Linked DNA regions of Homo sapiens. The protein of the gene in region 4 purifies or fractionates together with the protein of the main gene of each other region. This does not show direct contact. Each region holds a gene or a part of one and is shown on either strand. Other genes may lie near its edges.

Region 1 (3,519 bases), on a different chromosome or scaffold from region 4:
TGGAGTAACAGACTAAAGACCGTAATGAATGTCAACAGTTTCTCCTAAGTCCAAAATATAAATAAACTAGTCCCAGTAATCTTTAGTTTAAAAATAAAATTTAAATGATTTCCTACTAATAAAGCAAAAGATTAATTCTACAGAAAACATGTCATTTTCGGTACCATCTTTTCTATAAATAACCTGAAAAATTTTAAATCATGCATTACTGTTTTGCCTGTTGGCAGCAGCCAATAATCCTAGGGCTACGTGCCAATATAGACAAATCTGGGGGGAAAAAATACACGTATTCCATTTGTTTTAAAGCAATAAGATGTTTAGCTGTCACTTTCGCTAGAGTAAACACAGTTGAAATTCAACAGAAGTCGTGGTTTAAACTATGTGGCAATTATATAGGAGTAAAAAAAGAAGCTGTTTTGATGTGAATATAGTAACTACAGTGTTTAGAATATGTTGGTCCATTTTCTAGATATTTAAGGTTCGGCTGACACCATTACTGCGTGCATGACAAGCCCTTTCATTTGTTGTTATGCTTTCTTTTAACTTAGGACTGCTGTGAAAGAAAACTTTTAGAGCTTCAAAAGCAAGTCCCTGAAAGTCAAGCAGGATCCATGTATGAAGATCCATTACGTCATACAGACAATGGGTCACTTAAAAAGAGCACAGGTAAACTCATCCAGCTTCCTTTACTCTTTTCTTGAAATAACAAACAGATTTAAAAAATTCCAATTTCTGAAAAACAGAAATGATGTAAGACTTGGATAAGAGTTGGCCCAATAATTCTGGCATTGACTTTCAATATTTGTCCCTAACTTTGCAATAAAGCAGGAGAGTATTAAACTCATTAATAAAAGTTAATAAGTTAGCAGGAGTTAATAATTTGACTACTATTATTTTCTCCCAGATAAGGCCATTAATAAAACATCTCAAGCAGGGTGAGTTATTTTTTAATAAGTTTTTTAAGAACCTAAAGGGATTAGCAATTTTTCATTAACTTAAGGTGAATTTATGGTGGCTTATTTTCAAAGGAATTTAGAAGATTGATGAGAGCTCTAACCCAAGTTTCTAGTTAAATCCTATTAACTCCGTAGTTTAAAAAATTCTCTCAAGCTTAAATCAGCAATAAAGTCAACCCGCTCAGTTCCTGATACCCAAGTTCTTAAGTTTGGATATAAGAGAACATTTAAAGCATATTGGAAAACCTCAATCTATGAGAAGTTCTAGAAGGCTGAAATCTCATTGAGGCAAAGAAGACAGGTAAATGAACTGCATTTAAATGCAGGAAATAAGAGGTATAGGAAATCTAAAAATGTTACCACCACAAAAATAACTCCTAATAAAAAGAGATGTTAAACTGCCGATTTTTTAAAATTAAGTGACTAAAATAAATAACTTTTTGACTTGTGTACAGAAAAAAATGCCAGCTTTTAAAAAACATGGTATGTATAAACTAAATGTCAAATAAGGTTATCCTTCAAATATTTTTATTCAAAATTCTATTTTTAAGTGATTGCTACTTAGTCCCTCCAGCAAACTAGCAAGGAGACGACTTAGCAAGTTATTTAAACTCTTCAGCTTCTGTTTCTTCATGTTTATTAAGGTGAGTTTAACTAGAGTATCTCTATTCTTTGTTTTGGCTTTGAGAGCCTAGGATTGTTTTATTTAAAAAAAAAAAAAAGAAAGAAAGTCTAAAGGGAGTTTTTCCACATGGTTTTGTGTGTGTGTGTGTGTGGTTTTTTGTTTGTTTGTTTGTTTTGAGATGGAGTCTCGTTCTGTCACCAGGCTGGAGTGCAGTGGTGCGGTCTCGGCTCACTGCGACCTCCGCCTCCCGGGATCCAGCGATTCTCCTGCCTCAGTCTCCTGAGTAGCTGGGATTACAGGCACATGCCACAACACCTAGCTCATTTTTTGCATTTTTAGTACAGACAGTGTTTCACCCTGTTGGCCAGGCTGGTCTTGAACTTCTGACCTCAAGTGATCCGCCCACCTCAGTCTTCCAAAGTGCTGGGACTACAGGCGTGAGCCACCGTGCCTGTCCCCCACATGGTATGATTTTTAAAAATTTATTCTGTAGATGTCTTTTCTCTTAATATTGACATTTTAATATATTCTGCATTCTTGTTTAACCAAAGTAACTGAAAATGTGGAAAAGAGAGGCAAAATTACAAAGGAATCTTTCATATGCAAAGGAGGGCAAGTCCTTTCTGACCTTGCTTTTAGTATACCTTCTTGCCTTTCTGGAGCACATGCTGTGCTCTCTTAAGTCTCCTGGTATTTCCTATCTCCCTTTGCCTGGACTCTCGTCCAAGACATCAAAATCCTTCAAGCCTCCACATAAGCCTTATTTACCCTGGAAAGTCTTTCCTGTCTTATCAGTTAAACTGCCAAGCCTCCTTCACGTTTCCATAGTTCCTTGGAGTACTTCCTTTCTGCACTTATCAAAGTGGCAGTCAGGGTCTACTATTTCTATGTCTTTCTACTTTAGATATTTCCAGCATGGGCTCCGGGGAACAGGAGAGGGACCAGGCCTCCACCCTGCTTTCATGATGCTTAGCTTCCCATGCATTTAAGTGGTGTTAATAATGACTTTTTTGTAGAACTAGGTGGATAATACATGTGTCTCTAAAGGCATGGGTGGGAGCTCCTACCGAAACCCTGTGGTTTTCATCTGTTTCACAATCTAAACATGGCCAACTTCTTTAAAAATGTATGCATTGCTCTCCAGAAGAAATAGCTGTGAAAAATGTAGCTAGATCTAATTAGTTACTGCTTATAGAGAAATCTGTCAAAGTTTAACAGATTCATGGTAAAATATGTAACTATATAATAACTTCATACATAAAATAAGTACATATTCAGTATGATAAACAGTATGCTTCAGAAAATATAAAAATAAAAATTTAAAATACATCAAATGATGGGAACTAATCTTAAAGCTGTTAAAGAAAAAGTTTATTCAGAAATCTTATCGCAGGTGCAACATCTACAGCAATGGTCTAACAGAGGTGGTCGAAGGGTTCAAGTTGTGACAACAACAGAGGCCATTTATTGAGCAACTTCTATGCGCCAGGCACTGGGCTAGGGGCTTTACATATACTGTCCCATTTCATCCTTCCACTGTGGCAGACACTATTGTTACTCCAACTTTACAGTTAAAAACAATTAAAACCTAGACAGTATTACTCCCAAAGTCTCTGAGCTAGTTGCCGGCAGCTCTAGAACTCAAATCCAGGTCTCTCTGACCCCAGTCTATGCTGATAGCCACCAGACCATGTGTTCAAATCCACTTTCCAGTAATACATATTACTAGAATAATTTATTTCACTATCCATTTTTTAAGGACTATTAGGAACCTCATCTGCTTTCATTTGTTGGAGATTTGTTTCTTCAGTGCTCCAAAAAAGACTTAAACTATCCAATTTCTATGTAGCATCCAATGAGATACATAATTTGGCAGACATTACATCCATTGAAAACAATGACATCATTGTGGCTCTTTAAAAAAGTACAGCTACAGAC
Region 2 (3,519 bases), on a different chromosome or scaffold from region 4:
GCCTCCTGGGTTCACGCCATTCTCCTGCCTCAGCCTCCCGAGTAGCTGGGACTACAGGTGCCTGCCACCATGCCCGGCTAATTTTGTGTGTTTTTAGTACAGACAGGGTTTCGCCGTGTTAGCCAGGACGGTCTCAACCTCCTGACCGCATGATCTGCCCGCCTCAGCCTCCCAAAGTGCTGGGATTACAGGTGTGAGCCACTGCGCCCAGTCCAGAACAGAACTTTAAATTAAGCTTAAATCTTCACATAACTTACCTCTGGTTTTGTACTTTTATTTTTACTAGTTGATATATTTAAAAGGTAAATTTGTTCTTCAATTATTCCATACATATGTCTTCTCTACCTTCCAATATATGAAGCTAGGTGCTCTGTTTTGTGCTTACCCTTACTGGTCTAATCCACGGTTTGCGTATTTGCACAAACTCAATGATTATTAGTAATTGACATGAAGATGTCTTACCTCATCAGGATCAAGAACTGATGTTTCATAGACCAATCCCTTCATGCCTCTCATGCCACCATACATCTAAAGAGGATGAAGAAAGAAGGAAAAAAAAAAGAGGCTGTGGCCAGTAATCAGAATGATTCAGACTAGAACTTGTTAGAGCTTCATGGGATCTGGGAGAGAAAATTTATTCTCAGACTTGTAAGACTTCATTTGGTGAGAGATGTCTGAGGAGTCAGCTTACTAAAGAATTAAACTTTGTGGCCAGGCACAGTGGCTGACACCTGTAATCCCAGCACTTTGGGAAGCCGAGGCAGGTGGATCACCTGAGGTCAGGAGTTTGAGACCAGCCTGGCCAACAGGGTGAAACCATGTCTCTACTAAAAATTAAAAAATTAGCGGGCATGGTGTATGTGCCTGTAATCCCAGCTACTTGGGAGGCTGAGGCAGGAGAATCGCTTGAACCCAGAAGGCAGAGATTGCAGTGAGCCAAGATCACACCATTGCACTTCAGCCTGGGTGACAAGAGCAAAACTCCATCTCAAAAAAAAAAAAAAAAAAGAAAAAAAAAAACAAACTTTGTGGCCAGGTACGGTGGGGCTCATGCCTGTAATCCCAGCACTTTGGGAGGCTGAGGAGGAGGGAAGATCACTAAGCCTCTCACAGAGTCTGTCACTCAGGCTGCAGCACAGTGGCACAATCACGGCTTACTGCAGCCTTGACTTGCAGGCTCAGGTGATCCACCCACTTCAGCCTCCTGAGTAGCTGGGATTATAGGCACGTGCCACCATGTCTGGCTAATTTTTGTATTTCTTTTTTTTTTTTTTAAAGAAATGGGGTTTAGGCCGGGTGCAGTGGCTCACGCCTGTAATCCCAGCACTTTGGGAGGCCAAGGCGGGCAGATCACGACGTCAGGATATCGAGACATCCTGGCCAACATGGTGAAACCCTGTCTCTACTAAAAATACAAAAATCAGCTGGGCGTGGTGGTGCGGGCCTGTAATCCCAGCTACTCAGGAGGCTGAGGCAGAAGAATCGCTTGAACCCGGGAGGCGGAGGTTGTAGTGAGCCGAGATCACGTCACTGTACTCCAGCCTGGTGACTCAGTGAGACTCCGTCCCAAAAAAAAAAAAAAAAACAGGGTTTTGCCAGCCATGTTGCCAAGGCTGATCTTTTTTTTTTTCCCCCCAGATGGAGTCTCACTCTTGCCCAGGCTGGAGTGCAATGGTGCAATCTCAGCTCACTGCAACCTCTGCCTCCTGGGTTTAAGTGATTCTCCTGCCTCAGGCTCCTGAGTAGCTGGGATTACAGTTGCCTGCCACCATGCCCAGCTAATTTTTATATTTTTTAGTAGAGACGGAGTTTTACCATGTTGGCCAGGCTGGTCTCGAACTCCTGACCTCAGATGAGCCACCCGCCTCAGCCTCCCAAAGTGCTGGGATTACAGGCATGAGCCACTGCAACAGGCCTGGAAATGAAATTTTTTAAGTTGAGAAATCACTATCTTTCTTTTTGTTTGTTTTGGAGATAGGGTCTCCCTCTGTTGCCCAGGCTATACTACAGTGGCATAATCATGGCTCACTGCAGCCCTGAACTCCTGGGCTCAAGCAATCCTCCTGCCTTTGCCTCCCCAGTAGCTGGGACTACAGGGGCATCCCACCATCTCTGGCTAATTTTTTAAATTTTTCTTTCATAGAGATTGTATCTTCCTTTGTTGATCAAGCTGGTTGTTAACTCCTGGCCTCAAGTGATTCTCCAACTGCAGCCTCCCAAAATGTTGGGATAATAGGCATGAGCCATTGCGCCCTCTGTTTGATTCCTTTTCTTATTGTATTTCACTTTTTTTCTCCTGCCCACTCAACCACTCCCCAACATACCCTACCCTCAAATTCCAACCAATCAAAACAAACAGAATGAGTTCTAGTCTAGGAGAAGGGGATGGAGACCAATAAGCTAAAAACTGTTGAGAAACTATCAGCTGAGCTGCTCAGAATCTGAAGGATGGGGAAAAGTCATCCTAAAGCTGTCCTACAGGGCCTATGGGACAGAATGCTTTTGAATAGTCAGTGGAGAGAATGTTACTTTTGTTGAAGCACATTACAGAGCTACTTTTCCCAGCCAAAGCCACACAACCCTTACCATGTCCACAGTGATTTGGCCCACCACCGTCTTGCCATGTTGCTGCCTGAAAGTCTTAATTCTGGCCTGCTCCTTAGGTATCAGGTCAGCCAATATGTCTTTCAAATTCTAAAAAGAAAAGTAGAAGGACTAAGCAATGGTCTAAAAGTTTATTAGATTTCCTGCAAAGTAGGTGTGTCAAGAATTTGCTTTTTAGAAGCTGGCTTTATCTGCCAGGGAAGTCTGGTCAACTACTCTGCACAAATGAGGGTAAAAGAATTAGGCAGGGGGAAGAAGGAATGAGGAGTTAATGTTTAATGGGAACAGTTTCTCGGTTTGGGCAGACAAAAGTTCTGGAGATGGATGGTTGCACAATAATGTAAACATATCTACTGCCACTAAACCATATACTTAAAAATGATTAAAATGGTAAATTTTATGTTATGTATATTTTACACTACTTAAAACATTTAAAAGAATTAGGCAAATGTATTGATATTCCCATCTCACTATACCACTGAGTAAATTATTTGTTAAATAGTAATATAATAATAATAGCAGCTATAACAATAACAATAGTAACAAACACTTCCAGGAAATACTCAGGATAATAAGAGGCCAGGTGGTTGCCAAATCCTCTGCCCCAAGGTCAGGCTGGCCGCAATGATTCTTATTCTTAGTCTTCTTTTCCAAACCTTACCGTGGAGGAAGCACTGGCATGCCGGGCTGCAAGAACAAGACAAGATGCATTCTGCAAAGCAAAAAAGAGAACCTTATGTAACTGTTACCCCTCCCTCTTTTATATTAACAAGAAGGAATTACAGTGACTCAACCTCTCTCTCTTCATCTCAGTCTCTTAGGGCAGTTTGACATAAGAAAGCTGTAAAAGTCCCCAAACAGTTTGGAAGGAGTTACCACTATGGAGACAGCAGGAGGTTTAACTGCTTTTTTTCA
Region 3 (3,519 bases), on a different chromosome or scaffold from region 4:
GCCTAAAATAATTACTGTTTGGCCATTTACAGAAAGAATGCCAACCCCTACTCTATGAGTTCATAAAACCATGATGCCTGTGGAAGGTGTGATTTGTTATATGAGTTTATCGTATATTTGTTATATGAGCTGCTTAGTTGAGAGGTCACATCTCTGAGCAGCTCTTGGGTAGAAAAGCTAAATCTGCTATCTCTAAGAAACTTGATATGTACCTCCCCTAGTCATCATGTGACAACTATTTTTTCTGTCTCTCTGTCCCATGAAGATTAAAGTAAATACTAAGAGTCTGGTTCAGGATAGTTTTTTTTGTTTTTTGTTTTGTTTTGTTTTGTTTTTTCCTTTTGATTTTTTATAAAGACAAGGTCTCACTGTGTTGTCCAGGCCAGTCTCAAACTCCTGGGCTCAAGTCATCCTCCCACCTCAGCCTTCCAAAGTGCTGGGATTACAGCTGTGAGCCACCGCACCCAGCTCAGGGTAGTTCTTTATGGTATAATAGGTTCATGCTAGACCTACCAAAAATTTGAGTACTTTTTAAGTTATATTTTTTTGCAGCATGATATTAACATGTAAGTATATTTCAGAAAGTTTGTGAAAGGGAAAAAATTAACCATAACTCTAGCTATTCTAACTCAGCTTTTTTTTTCCCTTACCCATTGTTTGTTTGTTTTTTCTTTATTTGTTTTTTGTTTGTGTGTGTGGTTTTTTTGTTTTTTGTGTTTTTGTTTTTGAGACAGAGTTTTGCTCTTGTTGCCCAGGCTGGAGTGCAATGGCACAATCTTGGCTCACTGCAACCTCTGCTTCCTGGGTTCAAGTGATTCTTCTGCTTCAGCCTCCCAAGTAGCTGGGATTACAGGCATGTGCTACCACGCCCAGCTAATTTTGTATTTTTAGTAGAGACGGGGTTTCTCCATGTTGGTCAGGCTGGTCTCGAACTCCCGACCTTAGCACTTCGGCCTCCCAAAGTACTGGGATTACAGGCGTGAACCACTGCGCCCAGCCACCCATTGTTATCTGTAGTTGTGACATACTGTTATATATGTATGTGCAGGACTGGTTTTGGTTTTGTCACTTAGAATTATACTAAGCTTTTTTACTTAATATTTTCAATGTTTTTAAAAATATTTTCATATTCTCTGGTTATGAAGATTTTTTTTAATGCATGCATTTCAATACACAATTTGAGAGTCTGTAGTAGACAAAGATGCCAGACTGTGTTAATGACTACCCTCAGGGTGGTTATAATCTGATGAGAAAGATACACACATGACTTTCTTGTTCTTGTTGTTGTTGTTGTTGTTGTTGTTCTTGTTGTTGTTTTGAGAGAATCTTGCTCTGTGGCCCAGGCCGGAGTGCAGTGGCACAATCTCAGCTCACTGCAACCTCCGCCTCCTGGGTTCAAGCGATTCTCCTGCCTCAGGCTCCCCTGAGCTGGGATCACAGGCACCCACCACCATGACTGGCTAATTTCTGTATTTTTAGTAGAGACTGGGTTTCACCACATTGGCCAGGCTGGTCTCAAACTCCTGACCTCAATGGATCCATCCACCTCAGCCTCCCAAAGTGCTAGGATTATAGACGTGAGCCACCGCGCCTGGCCACACATGATATTTAATATAAGACAGAATGGAATAAATGATGACTAAAGGGAGAGCTGTTGATTCTAGTGGGGAGTTAGAGAAGATGTAATGAGGACTGCGGCATGTGAGCTGTGCATTAAAGAGGGGAAAGGGCTTTTTTTTTTGCAAAGGAAATGAAACGGACAAGGAAACTGGGGAGAGATCTGAGTGAGGGCATAGGCGTGGGACGTGCATTATGCAGAACTTGTGTAGAAAGCCCCAAGTTGTTTTCGTGATGAAAACACGAATGTGAGGAGGACTGTGGGAGACAGCCAAGCTGAGAAGGTGGAGCAGATCGTGAAGCACCCTGGTTGATACTGTAAGAAGTCAACACTTGATTCTCCAGGCAACAAGGAGGATGGAGGGGTTTGGCTAAGATGGCTCCACATCTAGCCCTGTTCATGCACTCAATATCTTTGGGATCCAGGCCTCAAAGTGAATGAAGCTGGACGATGGAAACTGTAGGAAATTTAAAATCAGATGCCATAACTGGAGGGGCCAGGGGCTCCTCAGCTCCAGCCAGTAATTATTTTGCTAATACAGTGCTATCGTTTCTCATTTTTCAAGAGAAACTACAGGTTTCAGCTTTTAGGCACAAGTGCCCAATTTAAAAACGTTTCACTGGGTGAAGTAAAACATTACTAGGTCCCATATTTGGTCTTTAATTGGCAGTTTGTGATCTCTCTTCTAACCGTGCATAACATCATTATACAGAGATGGTTTAGGAAAGTGAACACCTAAGAACAGGGAGATAAACTGTAAATGGGAATGTCATTGGTGAGAGCCAAGAATGTCCCAGAGCCATGGGAATGGAGTGGAAAGGGTAGATTCTGAGGAAGGGGAAGGTTGTATTCAGAATCAGGTGATCCCCGTGCACAGTCAGAGGACTACCTTCTCCAGTCCCTCAGACAGAATTTACTCTCCTTGGGGCTTTTAGCATAGCAGTGTCCTATGTGTTTTACATTTTGTGGCCGTATTCCATACTTGGTTTACAGGTTTGGTTACAAGCACCCCTTGCAAGCTTTTGAAGGCAAGGACTATGTCTCAGTCCTCACCACCTAAAATAGCTTGGCTCATTGTAGATTCATAGTACATTGTCTCAATTGTGAAGATGGGAATGTATATTTCATCCATGTCAAAAATAAGGTCATTTTTTTTTTTTGTTTAACCCACAGCTTTTACCTTAATCTTAGTAGGTTTTAGAGTGATTCATTCACTTTTCTTTTTTTTTTTTTTTTTTTTTGAGACAGAGTCTTGCTCTCTCACCCAGGCTGGAGTGCAGTGGCGCCATCTCCGCTCACTGCAAGCTCTGCCTTCTGGGTTCACACCATTCTTCTGCCTCAGCCTCCCCAGCAGCTGAGACTACAGGCACCCGCTGCCACGCCCGGCTAATTTTTTTGTATTTTTATTAGAGACGGGGTTTCACCGTGTTAGCCAGGATGGTCTCGATCTCCTGACCTCGTGATCCGCCCGGCTAATTTTTTTGTATTTTTAGTAGAGACGGGGTTTCACCGTGTTAGCCAGGATGGTCTCGATCTCCTGACCTCGTGATCCGCCCGCCTGGGCCTCCCAAAGTGCTGGGATTACAGGCGTGAGCCACCGTGCCCCGCCCACTTTTCTTAATACAGATGCAATTATGATGGGGTTACATCCCAATAAGCCTGTCATAAGTCAGAAATGCATTTAAGGCCAGGCTTATGTCTGTAATCCTAGCATTTTGGGAGGCCAAGGTGGGAGAATCACTTGAGCCCAGGAGTTCCAGACCAGCCTGGGCAAAATGGGGAGACCCTGTCTCTACAAAAAAAAAAAAAAAAGAAAAGAAAATTAGCAAGGCATGGTGGAATGCACTTGTGGTCCCAGCTACTTGGGAGGCTGAGGCAGGAGGATCACTTGAGCCTGGAAG
Region 4 (3,519 bases):
TCTACATGGCCCCTCTTCCACTTCCACTCCAAGATTCTCTCCTCTCTCCCAATTTTTCCTTTCTCCATTATCCCTTGGCAGTCTCCCTGAATGGTTTGTGCTGTTACTGCAGTGTGGATAGTTCCCAGAGTCTGTGACTCTAGCTCTCCAAGCTGGGTGTCTTGTTTCCAGCCGTGTGCACAGTATCTCCAACAAGATGTCCTGTTAACTCCTCCTGAATTTTTACTAACCTGACATCATCTTTGTCCTTAGGAGCTTCTCCTCCTGACTTCCCACTTTCTCTTGATGGCACCAACAAACTTCCAGTCACCCTGGCTCGAAACCTCCAAGTTTATATTTGAACTCCTCTCCCTTGTTCCCCAAGTATTGCTTGATGTATTTTATAAGCCCATGCCCCTCTTCTTCATCCCAAACACCACTACCCAAGTGCAGATTTTATCACCTCTTGTATAAAAATAATAATAATGTGTGTGTGTTTACCATCTGTCAGCTACTCTGTTGCAAAGTGCTTTACGTTGATTTTCCCATTTAATCCTTACCATGACTGTACGAAGTACTTACTATTATTATACTGTAAAAAACAGCTTTCTGCCATCTTCCCAACTTCAACCTTTTCCTCTTTCAATTCATTTTCATCAGTTACAAGATTCACCTCCTAAAATGCCCTTGTAAACTTATCATTTTTCTGCACAAAAAACTTTGAAGGGCATTCCATTTTTTGCAGTTCCTTGTATTCAAGGCCCTGTATGAGCTGGTGCCCCACTCCATATCTAGCCTCACTTTTTACAGTTTCCTTGCCCTTTCTGCTTTTGTGCATTTGTTCACAGTTTACCTTCCCCTAAGACTTGTCCTTGTTCTTCAGTGTTCAATTCAAATGCCTCTGCCTGATGGGAAGGCTTTATGGAGAAGCTGTCCCTTCCTCCTGTGAATTTTAATAATGTGACATCTGTTTTTCATTAGCCCTTTACACTTTCTGAAATGCACTTTTTTTTTTTTTTTTGCGTGTGGCTTACCATCCCTCCTGGAGCAAGTGCTTTTTCTGTCTCCCACTCTATGTCACATGATGCCTGAAATACAGTAGGTGTTCAATGAAAAAATGGAGTGAATAAATGAATATACTCCCTCACCCATGAAGCAGGTGAAACAAGGTCAAGAAAGGGGATCTATACTATTTCCTAAAATAAGACAGTGGTGGAGTCAAAATTCAAACCAGGGACAGGAAAATGGTGTCATAGAGGAGGCAATGAATTGGTGATAAAAGGTTATGTTCTAATTCTTATCACTTCTGACAACCACAGGTAAGACTCACCTCTGTTCTCTGGGCCTTGGATTCCTTATCCATCAAAAGAGTTTGTGTTGGATGTGTTGACTTTTATGCTCCTCCCTGACCTGACAATTCTGTATTCTGTGAGTCTTGTTTCATAGCATACAGATTGTCTCCTGCTAAGAATACTTTTAGTGCTGACTGTATCTTTCATTTCAGGACCTTCCAGCTGTAACTTGAAGCCTCTAGTGTATCTGTTATCACATTGAGTCTCTAGAGATCAACTTGGCCAGTCAACTCAGCTGTCCAGCCAGTAAGGTGCCCTAAACTGGTTAGAGTGCCTCAAGGGCCCCAGGTTGGCACTCCTCAATGTGCAGCCACCAGTCAGCTCCCACTGCAGTATTCTAGGGCATTCGCAGAATGACTAGTAGTGCTCTAGGCTCCCAAATGTTCCAGACATCCTATCTCAACTCCTGCACTTCTGCCTTTCATAGAGCCCCCAGAAAAGATGTGTTTAGAGCCATGTAGATTCTGTTGAGAGTCTAGTAAAACCACTCTGCTCAGTGGCTTTCTAGATGCTCCACCTACCCCAAACATACCACTGTACTCTCTCCCCAGTGAGACAGGAAGAATCCTCTTGAGCCAATGCCTTTTAGCCCCTGAAAAGAAACTAATAGAGGAATCAACCTCAAGGGGAAATCATTATGGAAGAGCACATCTGTGAAGGTAGTAGCTAGATCTGCTGGGAGTCTGAGGAATCTGCTCCTAGCACCCCCTTGTAATAGGAGGACCCAGAGCATCCCTAGAGTTAATTATACAAAAGAACTACCCAGACTTGTCTCAGAGAGATGACTTTGACTGCTCGCCAGGTTTTATTTGTTCTTCAATCAGGCAATGATATGATTTAATTCCATATTTCAACATTTAAAAAATTAAAATAAATTAAATGGCATTAAAATACATCTGGCTTCTGGAGAATAGCCTGAGAAATATGTACATAAAGGAGGCTGATCACCAGCATCCCTTGATGGCTTTGCAACAGGGCAGAAGGATGTCAGCCTCCCCCATGGGTAACCTCAGAAGATAGAGCCCAGGTGGTTCTCTCTTGGCAACAGGGAAGGGCAGGAACGATGTCGGCCTCAGGCTGCCCTGGGATTCTTGCTCCTTTGACTCCAGCCCTGACTTCCTTTCAGTTGCAGGGGATGCTTCCTCTTGGTCCTTCCCGACATGACACACTCCTTCAGCCTGCTGAAAGGAGACCTCTGGCATTCACAGCACGAAGGTTTGGTTCTGGCTCCATTATTTATTGGCATAGCAACACTCAGCAATAAATGAGCCCCAATTTCTTCTTCTGTATGATCATCCTCATAAGAAGGATTAAATAAGATCCTGTGAGTGAGAAGTTCTTTGTAAACCCCTGGCACATAGCATTGTTTAATATTTATTGAATGAATGATGCAGTATAAATGCTGATTATCATTATGCCATACTCTGAAGGAAAAGTGAGGTGCTAATGAGAGGACTAAGACTGGGAGAAGGGGCCGTGTTTAGAATTAGACTCACGACTTCTGTCCAAACACTATGTGGTCCCATTGGTTCTTGAGAATGAACAAAACTCTCTGAACTCTGAGGTCATTGGCTTTAACCATATACCTCTCTACCCTAAGGCTTGCCAGGAAGTTTGAAGTCTCTTCCTAGATGCATCTTTCCAGAATCACTTAATGAAAACTCCTGTAGAGTCATTTTGCATCCACTCAGCAAATACTTACTGAGTACTCCCTCTGCCAGCACTAGCCAAGGCACTGGGAATACTGTGGTGAACAAAAGGGACCAGATTCCTGCTACTATGGAGTATATATTCTATGATAAACTAGTAAAAAAGCAAACAAAAACAATGATGATTTCATCAAGTGAATATGGGCTGTAAAGAAAACGAAAAGTGATGTTACAAGAGAGTACTGGAGGGGGAGATTGCCTTTAGATAAGATGGGCGGGGGAAAGCCTCTCAGAGAGGGGGCATCTAAGGCCTGAATGAAATCTAAAAGTGACCTATGTGGATATTTAGGGTAAGGTTGTTTCAAGTAGAGAGAACAGTAGATGCAAAAGTCCTAAGACACATGCTTGCCTGTTCTAGAAACTTCAAAGTATTTCATCTGAGTTGGAGTGGAGTATGGGTGGAGCAAAACAAAATGGTAGGAGATTTGAAAGGTCAGCAAGTTAGAAGCTAGATGAGAAGTCAGTAGGGGGTGGGGTGC
Region 5 (3,519 bases), on a different chromosome or scaffold from region 4:
AGGAAGCAGTTGGAGGCCAAGCAGAAGACCACTTGAAACTCAAAGATGGGCAGCAACAAAATGAGACTAAAAAGAAGAAAGGATGGCTGGATCAGGAAGACCAGGAAGCACCACTGCAGGTTTGCTGACTTGACACTTTATCAGGGGATGAGAACCAGATTATAAAGTTCAGATGGAACCCAGAGCAAAAATCTCTGTCTCTGAGAAAGAAGACATGAGCAGATTCTCTGGCTGCATTTTATTTTTTATTTTATTTATTTATTTATTAATTTTGAGATGGAGTTTCACTCTTCTCAGCCAGGCTGGAGTGCAATGGCACAATCTTGGCTCACTGCAACCTCTGCCTCCCAGGTTCAAGCCATTCTCCTGCCTCAGCCTCCCAAGTAGCTGGGATTACAGGCATCTGACACCACGCTCAGCTCAGTTTTGTATTTTTGGTAGAGATGGGGTTTTACCATGTTGGCCAGGCTGGTCTTGAACTCCTGACCTCAGGTGATCCGCCCGCCTCAGCTTCCCAAAGTGCTAGGATTACAGGTGTAAGCCACTGCGCCCAACCTCTGGCTGCATTTTTATGTTACAGTCTCTATTACCCAGTACCACTGCAGGTCATTGTCAGCCACCCTCAGAAAACCATAGAATGTTTTCCTAGTGAAATAAGCAGAAAACAGCAAATTGTAGATTAGTAGTCCTTAATTTGAAATCCAAATTGCTTTAACAGATTCCACATCCTACATTGGTTTCCCCCATCTTGCATTCTGTGGTACCATATACAACTCCATCAACTGGACCTTACACCCCTGTAACAGATAAGATAAACCATACATACTTCTACAAGTTTAAAATCATTAACTGAAGAATGTCTCATCTATCTAAAGTCAAGTCACTGGGTAAATAAATGCCCAAACTGAGCTCAGACTATACTCAGTTTGAATTATTACCATAGCCCAATTTATATTTCCAGTTTTTAGTGTATTATTCACCAGCATTGGTCATATGTTTTATATATGATTGTTTATGCTTGCATTTCTCAGGAGGGTGCCTTCAAGAATCCTCTCAGTGCTTTTGAGAAATGTCAGGCTGTTGGCTCCTGTTACTGTGTTAATGGATAGCTCCACAGTCACATACTTTGAATTAGGATGGTGTGATGTTCATAACAATGACCCTGTGGTCCTGAATCCTCAGGATAACATTTAGCCTAGCTTTGTGCATTCTAACTAGTGCTTTGAAAATTGACAATCCGCAAATATCATGATATAGGAACCCTCATTCAAAAGGTTACACTCTTTTGTTATACTAGATAACATTTACCATTGAAATTTTTAAACTAGAGTTCTCTGATGTCACTCAGGTATCTTGAGATTGAATGATATTTTTATGCAAATTTCCTAGAAAGGGGACGCCAAAATAAAAGCTCAAGAGGAAGCTGACAAACGCAAGAAAGAACACGAGAGAATTATGTTACAAAATTTACAAGAACGGTTAGAAAGGAAAAAGGTACTCGCTCTCTGTTTGGGGGGACTTGATTCTGTGTTTAAAACAATGTTGGGCACCTGATATCAGCATGTTTTTAAAAATCACAAATCTGATATATGCTAGTTCCTGGTGGTTTTCCCACTCGATTCTCTTCCTTATCCAAGGATCTGACTTCTCCTACATAGAGGGCTGTCCTCTTACTGATCATGCCTCCCTCTCATGGACCCTTGGTGGCCATTGGCCATTACAGTGATGCCTCACTATATCAAACCTCTGGTAACAAAACTTCTCTGAGCAGAAGGACTCCAGTCATGGTAGGGGTTGGTAGAAGTTAAGACTTTCTTCTAAACTGGCTGGAAATTGCAGCAACTACATGGGGAGAAGCACAAACTGTAGGCCTCTTTGAGAGGCCAAGGTGCAGGCTATTTTTAAGGTAGGGCCACATGTGAGCTCATCTGCAGCCCTGGTCCAGGCTGAGTTGCTGCAAGGCCTATCTGGTAGTAGATTGGTCACCTTGAGGGGGCCAGGGAGCTGCAACTCTCCTCACTGCAGGGAAAGAAGTGTGCACAGGAGAGAGAATTCCTGTCCTTCCCTAGAAATATATTTCTCCTCCACCTCCTATCTTCTCTCTTCATTAACACAAAACAGTGTGGCATCATTGAGGTGTATTATTTTCATTAACATTGGCTTCAGGAATCAGCTGAAGACTAAAGACTAAAATTATGTTAAAAGCTCTAATTGGTTCGCAATAATATATGCTTAGTCTAATGAATTTCTGCATATGCAAAATTAGGAGTGAGATGTTGTCATTTGAATGTTTGTGTTATAACAAATACAGCGGTCATCATTCAGGGCATTTTATAGCTGAAACTGGGATTGGGATAGGGGACTCAACTGCCACCGTAAGCCTTTTGTTGGTAATATTTGTGGTTTTGGAGCAATCACTGCCATTGTGCACCTCTGTGAAATGGGGATAATCAACTCCTTTAGGACAACTGTTTGGTTTCTAATCTGTTTTCATGTTTGAATTTTTATTTTCCTTTAAATAGAGAATAGAAGAAATTATGAAGCGGACAAGAAAGACAGATGTGAATGCCTCAAAGGTAGTCTCCATACTCCTACCAGCAGTGTATAAGAATGCCTCTTGTTTCACATTATTGCCGAGTTTTTCACTTTACCCAATCTGGTGGTAATGAAATAAAGTATTACATTTGCATTTCCCTGATTATCAACAAGGTTGACCATGTTTTCATATCTTTAGTTAGCTCTCATATTTCTTTTGTGTGAAATGTTTTTTTTTATCTTTTGCCCAAGACTTTTGGGTTGATTTGTCTCATTGTGGTTCTTTAAATGTTATAGATACTGCTTCTTTTTTGGTTATGTGTTGCAGATACCTTCTCCCAGTTTACAGCTTATCTTTTCTTTTTCTTTTTTTCTTTTTTTTTTTTGTATACAATGTGTAATGATCAAATCAGGATAATTAGCAAATCCATCACCTCAAACGCTGATCATTTCTCTCTTTTTTTTTTTGAGACAGAGTCCCGCTCTGTCACCCAGGCCAGAGTGTAGTGGTGTGATCTCGGCTCACTGCAACCTCCACCTCCTGGGTTCAAGTGATTCTCCTGCCTCAGCCTCCTGAGTAACTGGGATTACAGGCATGCACCACCATGCCTAGCTATTTTTGTATTACTATTAGAGACAGGGTTTCAACATGTTGGCCAGACTGGTCTCGAAATCCTGACCTTAGGTTATCCACCTGCCTTAGCCTCCCAAAGTGCTAGGATTACAGGTGTGAGCCACCATGCCCAGCCAGTTTATCTTTTCTTAATGTTGTCTTCTTCTGGATAGAAGCTTTTTTTTTTTTTTTTTTTTTTTTTGAGATAAGAGTCTTGCTCTGTCACCCAGGCAGGAACACAGTGGCGCAATCATGGCTCACTGCAGCCTCCACCTCCCAAGCTCAAGCAATCCACCCATCTCACCCTTCCAAGTAGCTGAGACTACAGGTGCATGCCACCACACCTGGCTAATTTTTTATTTTTTATTTAT

Evidence for each region.
Region 1: the proteins of SLC8A3 (region 4) and CA2 purify together in Homo sapiens (affinity purification with mass spectrometry; one large-scale study listed by BioGRID and IntAct). This does not show direct contact.
Region 2: the proteins of SLC8A3 (region 4) and CS purify together in Homo sapiens (affinity purification with mass spectrometry; one large-scale study listed by BioGRID and IntAct). This does not show direct contact.
Region 3: the proteins of SLC8A3 (region 4) and GOT2 purify together in Homo sapiens (affinity purification with mass spectrometry; one large-scale study listed by BioGRID and IntAct). This does not show direct contact.
Region 5: the proteins of SLC8A3 (region 4) and MAP7D3 purify together in Homo sapiens (affinity purification with mass spectrometry; one large-scale study listed by BioGRID and IntAct). This does not show direct contact.

The regions. Positions count from the first base shown.
Region 1 is NC_000008.11:85,466,996-85,470,514, reverse strand, and holds part of CA2 (carbonic anhydrase 2), read right to left. Parts: intron 1-3,519. UniProt on the Homo sapiens protein: Catalyzes the reversible hydration of carbon dioxide. Can also hydrate cyanamide to urea. Stimulates the chloride-bicarbonate exchange activity of SLC26A6. Essential for bone resorption and osteoclast differentiation.
Region 2 is NC_000012.12:56,283,330-56,286,848, forward strand, and holds part of CS (citrate synthase, mitochondrial precursor), read right to left. Parts: intron 3,317-3,519; coding exon 3,266-3,316; intron 2,695-3,265; coding exon 2,587-2,694; intron 529-2,586; coding exon 463-528; intron 1-462. UniProt on the Homo sapiens protein: Key enzyme of the Krebs tricarboxylic acid cycle which catalyzes the synthesis of citrate from acetyl coenzyme A and oxaloacetate.
Region 3 is NC_000016.10:58,710,308-58,713,826, reverse strand, and holds part of GOT2 (aspartate aminotransferase, mitochondrial isoform 1 precursor), read left to right. Parts: intron 1-3,519. UniProt on the Homo sapiens protein: Catalyzes the irreversible transamination of the L-tryptophan metabolite L-kynurenine to form kynurenic acid (KA). As a member of the malate-aspartate shuttle, it has a key role in the intracellular NAD(H) redox balance.
Region 4 is NC_000014.9:70,178,947-70,182,465, reverse strand, and holds part of SLC8A3 (sodium/calcium exchanger 3 isoform D precursor), read left to right. Parts: intron 1-3,519. UniProt on the Homo sapiens protein: Mediates the electrogenic exchange of Ca(2+) against Na(+) ions across the cell membrane, and thereby contributes to the regulation of cytoplasmic Ca(2+) levels and Ca(2+)-dependent cellular processes.
Region 5 is NC_000023.11:136,223,884-136,227,402, reverse strand, and holds part of MAP7D3 (MAP7 domain-containing protein 3), read left to right. Parts: coding exon 1-119; intron 120-1,389; coding exon 1,390-1,494; intron 1,495-2,522; coding exon 2,523-2,576; intron 2,577-3,519. UniProt on the Homo sapiens protein: Promotes the assembly and stability of microtubules.